Linked DNA regions of Homo sapiens: region 2 is linked to region 1. The links come from fine-mapping of genetic effects on gene expression. A gene starts in region 1. The other region holds a variant in brackets. All regions are shown on one strand. Distances are from middle to middle.

What was found.
Region 2: its variant is fine-mapped to the expression of PLA2R1 in lung (TOPMed, PIP 0.98).

Annotation. Positions count from the first base shown.
Region 1 is chr2:160,061,070-160,063,975 of GRCh38, reverse strand. PLA2R1 (phospholipase A2 receptor 1) reads left to right here and starts at 1,361. Exons shown (of 30, transcript NM_007366.5): 1 at 1,361-1,681. The coding sequence starts at 1,573.
Region 2 is chr2:160,003,773-160,006,678 of GRCh38, reverse strand. It overlaps PLA2R1 (phospholipase A2 receptor 1), which reads left to right. Exons shown (of 30, transcript NM_007366.5): 11 at 858-1,027. Among named protein-coding and RNA genes, the nearest start is that of PLA2R1, 57 kb to the left of the region's middle. The variant C/T (reference allele first, on the strand shown) is at 1,611.

The sequences.
Region 1 (2,906 bases):
AGATGGATACATAGTTTGTGGCTGAAGTCTGTGTAATCTACTAGGCTTAAAGCATCTCTTTTCTGCATGTTTTCAAGCAAGGATGCTGAATTCTACATGTAATGATATGTTATAAACTCTACACACATTGGAACCTCTCACATCCTCTCAACCCACCTCTTATTCCAGCCCCCTCTGCAGCCTGTTTCCCCCGGCTGTCCCCCACCCCCCAACCCTCTGAGAAACAACCTGACAGCGCCTCACCTTTTGCCATGCTATGCACCCAGGGCTTCTAAGAGACAAGGTATGGGACCATGACTGAAACTCACCACTGCTGTAGAACAGTGCAGAGGAGTTAATAACCCTAGGATCTCCCTTACCAACAGGGAAGGATAAAGTCCATGGATAAACGCTTGCCCCTTTTGTCCTCGACAGACAGTTCTGAGGCTCTCTGAGGTTCCTGCAGGACTGAGCACCTTTTGTTAAGGCCATGGCCAAGGCAACCACTTTCCCTTCTTCCCCATTTGGCTCTGACCTTCAATCTTGCTCCCTGCTAGGCATTTCCTTCCAGGCTCTGCTTTCTGCCCCTCCCCTCCCCCTCTCTTATGTTTTAATGACTAATGTCAAGGTCCCGCTGAGGAAAGGTCTTATATGAGCCTGTTCTCAGAATATTAAACGCTTCCAGTGTTCTGCTGGTTATTTGAAGGAGGACAGTTAGAACGACTACATTCTAGCCAGGGCTGTCCTACTTGCTAGAGAGTAACTTTTGCTGGATTAGGAAGTAACCTAGAGCAAAGCACTTCGACTTTCTGGGCAGGGTTTCTCAGCTGTAAAAATGGGATAATAGGGACCCCGGCTACTTTGCGGGGCTTGGGGGATCAAAGGAGTTGGAAAGAGGAGGTTATTTCAAAACCGAAGGAGCTGAATAGAAGAATCTCCGGGTTACTCTGGGGCAAGGAAGGTGGAGACCACGGCGTGGCCCCTCAGGTGTCTCCAGTGCTCCACAAGTCAAAGGAGTCCAGGACCCTCCCAAAGCGCCTGCGTCGCGGAGCAGCTGGGTTCACTCTAGGCTGCCCGCTGCAAATCCGCGGTGTTTACCAGAATCCAGGTGGTTTGCAAACCCGGATGTCAGGCTCCTTGTCCCGGAGATTCTCAAATCGCTCACCCACAACTCCTCTTCGGCCTCCCCCAGAAAGGAGAGAGCAGGGCTGCAAGCTAGAGGAGCGGAGAGTGTGACCCGAGCAGCCTCACTCCGCCTGTCCCCACCCCAAAGGCAGGAATTTCTGGGATGGGCAGATGGCCCACCCCTCCTCCTCCTCCTTCCCCAAGCCGCAGTGGGTGGGGCGAGGAAAACCTCCGCGACTTTCCCGCATCCCAGCCCAGAGCCCCGAGTGTCGGTTCACTGTGGAGACAGCGGTGGCGGAGTGGGTCTCCAGGGCTCTGGGCTGGCAAGGCCCCCGGAGGGGGTGGGGCGCGGAGGAGGCTACGGATCCGCTTCCGCGCGGCGGGGCCGGGTGCTTGGGACGCGGCTCTGGGCTCCCGGGATAAGGGGCTCCCGGGACAAGGGGCTCCCGGAGAGCCCAGTGGTTAGCGATGCTGCTGTCGCCGTCGCTGCTGCTGCTGCTGCTGCTGGGGGCGCCGCGGGGCTGCGCCGAGGGTGTGGCGGCGGCGCTTACCCCCGAGCGGCTCCTGGAGTGGCAGGGTGAGTCTCCCAGGGTCGGGGACTGGATCGGTACGTTGGGGAGGGGGGTCGGGGTGGTCGAAGGAGAGGAAGAAGGGGCGAAGCTAGGGGCCAAGCTGGCGGGCAAGGGCGGCCGCGTTTGTAGGGGTTCGTGTGTCAGCAGTCCTGAGCATGGGGGGAGCGGGTGGTGTCCTGCAGCCTCTTGTCTAGGCCCAGCACCCCACTTGCGCGGCCCGGCACCCTCCTGGCTCCTGCGGGGGTCGGGCGGCGGGGGCGGGGGGGCTTGGTCTCGCAGGTAACTCCTCTCGGCTCTGGCGCCCGGAGCCAGCCCGGGATAGGAGTGTCGGAGAAGTTTCAAAACGGAAACTTTCTGAGAGCTGCTTATTTGGGACGGATAAATGATAGCAAAAAGATGGCTCAGTTCGTCCCCTTGCAAAGCAAGCGCTCAGGGTCTGCGTCGCCACCTAGGAGTGACCCCCAAGCCAGGCCTCCCCAGTCCATCCCTTCCTTAAGGAAAACTTTTTTTGTTTGTTTGTTTTTTGAGACAGGGTCTTGCTCTGTCGCCCAGGCTGTAGTGTAATGGCGGGATCTCGGCTCACTGCAGCCTCCGCCTCCCGGGGTCAAGCGATCCTCCCACCTCAGCCTCCCGAGTAGCTGGGACCACAGGTGTGCGCCCGCACGCCCAGCAAAATTTTTGTATTTTTGGTGGAGACGGAGTTTCACCATGTTGCCCAGGCTGGTCTCCAACTCCTGGGCCCAAGTGATCCGCCCACCTCGTCCTCCCAAAGTTCTGGGATTACAGGCCTGACCCACCGCACCCCGCCTGAAAACATCAGGCCAGGTGAGGGAGAGAAGCCCCAGTGGCTCCATGAACTGCGTGATCTGAAGCCTTTATGCCTTAGTCTCTCTCAGTGGAAAAACGGGGTTCAATTCAGCAAACACTTATTGAGCACCTACTACACATGAGACTCAGAAGGTTGTGTAAAGAGAGGGAGGAGAGATTTCTGGCCTGCAGGGGCCCGCATTTGAGAATGGGCCACCTCAGGCAGAGAAGCCTGCGCCTAAGTGCAGAAGTCCATATATGCAAGTAGGAGGGGGACAGGAGGGAGTTAAATATGCCAGGAGGAGCCTCCAGACAGCCTCCATCCTCTCTGCCTTTGGAGATAAGTTTGGAGAGAAGGGGTAACACAAGATGTGATCAATATCTGCGTTCACATTTTTTCCTCCACAGTAGAATATGTCTACA
Region 2 (2,906 bases), 57 kb after region 1:
ATGTTCTAAAAATAGCTTTCTCAAGATAGTTTCAACTTAGCTGAAAGGTTCAATGCTAGTTAAATTTTAATAGTCATGTTTTTCTTAGTAGGTGTGCATGTGGAAGCATGTATGTGAGTCTTCTATATTCTGCTTTTGATGCATTCATACTGGAAAGGGGGCACTGCCACCAATCATTGAACAGTAATTCATTCAGCTGTTTGGGAAGTATATTAGTGGATGTACGGCCTTAGATTAGTTCCTAGGCTTTCACATTTTTCTTCAGTGAACATGCAGATTTAAACACATTTGAATAAGCTGAGACCTACCTCTGCCTATGAACACACTGATTTGGGAGACATAAAATTGCTACTTTAATTTCTGTTTCTTTCTCACCAGGCAAGTGAGGTAGGTGGGTGTGTGTGAACTCTGTATTAGTAAATGCTCATTCAGAAAAGCATAATATCTTTCCTCCTCCCTCCTGCCCACCTTTACCCCGTGCATATTGTGGCATGGTGTGTGTGGTGTGTGGCCTAATTACAAAATAGGCCACATCGTACTCCAAGAAATGCATTGCTGGCCATGTGAACTTTACCACCTATGCTTTGAAACTGGAGCTGGACTCTCTATTCTGTGCAAGAATTAAGCCCCATATGCAAGAGTCAGATTCTGCTCACTCATATAGTTCTGGGAATTGCACTGACATTCGGCATTTATTAGTAATGTTCAGGGTCTTTGGGTGTTTTCCTGTTCCATGTTCTAAAGAATTGATGAGAAATGCTTACTCTGGGGCCATTCTGTGCACTTCATTATGCTTTAATGACATTTTTTTATTGCCCAGAAACTTAATGTAACCACTTCTTTTTTCCCCTTTTAAGGTTTGAACAGGCTTTTATTACCAGTTTGATCAGTAGTGTGGTAAAAATGAAGGACAGTTATTTTTGGATAGCTCTTCAGGACCAAAATGATACGGGAGAATACACTTGGAAGCCAGTAGGGCAGAAACCCGAGCCGGTGCAGTACACACACTGGAACACACACCAGCCGCGTGAGTAGAGTGTGCTGCATCACCAACCCTCCCTGTTTTCTTTACTCCAAATTCCTTCCACCCCTTGGCCCACCTCCTTTGATTCTTTCTTAATGTTTTCTTAATGCCTAAATCAATTACAAGGATCAACACAGGTTAACAGGGGGTGACATATGGCTGATCTTTGTTTTTATTTATTTTATTTGTTTGTTTGTTTGTTTGTTTGTTTGTTTGTTTTGAGACGAGGTCTCGCTCTGTCACCCAGCCTGGAGTGCAGTGGTGCAATCTCGGTTCACTGCAGCCTTGACCTCCTGGGCTCAAGTGATTCTCCCACCTCAGCCTCCCCAGTAGCTGGGACCACAGGCATGCGCCACCACACCCAGCTAATTTTTGTATTTTCTGTAGAGACAGACTGATATTGAACTCCTGGGCTCAAGCAATCCTCCCACCTTGGCCTCCCAAAGTGCTGGGATTATAGACATGAGCCAAATTGCCTGGCCCAATGGTCATTTTTAAAAGTATAATCCGTATGAGTCATTTGACATGTTAAAGGTATAAATTCATCGCTCAGGACCACCACTGCCTTTATTAGCAGCAAGTCCAG[C/T]TTCTCCCTCCTAATGTCTTTCTCCCCACCTGCACCCCCCACTGTCTAAGAATCTCAAGTGCTTACTCAGTTCAGAATGGTCAGTTAAACTTCAAAGTACGGTGGATGGGCACATATGGGTACATCCAATCAGTTCACAGTCACTGCCTGGGGTACCTTAGCCAGGATTCCAGCGTTAACAGCTCTACTAGTTCATCCTCAGGTGTTCAGCTCTGAATCCCAAGGCATGAAACTGTGCCAGGTTGGTCAGTACCAGAGAAGCTGATGTCTTCCGCCACAGCCTACACTAGAACCAGTCTCTGTGGAACAAGCTTCAGGCCCTTGTATTAAGCTGAGGTTGACAGCCTAGACCCAACAGCCCTTCTACTTCAGGGTGAGTTCTTGCTTGCCTGTATCTCCATCAGGGCTGTGCCAGAGACAACAGCAAAGAGTTACTAAGTTTGTATCTAGAGGAAATGGCTTAGGGGCCCCAGGCTCTTCCCTCCCTGAAGGCCCGGAGCTCTTTATACAAATTGGTCTATTCCATCCTCAGAGCTCTATATACCAAGGTAAGGAAAGTGTTTGCTAAGCCACAGGGGGAGGTATATCTCCCCTTTAGTGTGGCCTCACACTAAAATATAAAAGTGGCCACACAAGCCTTGTTTCTCATAATTACAAAAGTCCAGTCCAAGGTGGTTTGCTAATCCCAACTCTAGACAGTGGTTGGCAAAGCTCCACCGATTTTTAAAATTCAACGATGAAATCATGAATATATTCTTACTATAGATAATGTGACCATATACCTCATTTGCCCAGAACAGTTCTAATTTATGTCTGGTGTCCCAGAGCAATTAACAGCAGGTATTTTTACTCCAAATTTTTCTGGCTTGGATGGTAAATTATGTAGATGCTCTAATTATAGAGAAGTGTGCTAAGTAAAATGTGGAAGTACTCCGTTACATCTTTCTCTTCACCTTCCCAACATCAATACATTTCCCTTTTCAGAAACAACCACTGTTAACTGTTTGGTATGATCCTGCTGGTGTTTGTCTATGCATTGCATTTAAATACATTTATGCATATGTACTTTTTAAATGGATATAAGGATTGCATGTTTCTGTTATTTGATTTTTTTCACTTAGCAATCTGTCTTAGAGAACTTTCCACATCAATATTTATTAGTCGACATTTGAAACAGCTACATAGAATTTCATAGTATGTAGGACTCATAATTTGCTTTGCCATGACCCTGTTGAAGGACATTGGGTGAAATTCATTTTCATTTCTGCTACAAAAGTGTTACAACAAATATCTCTA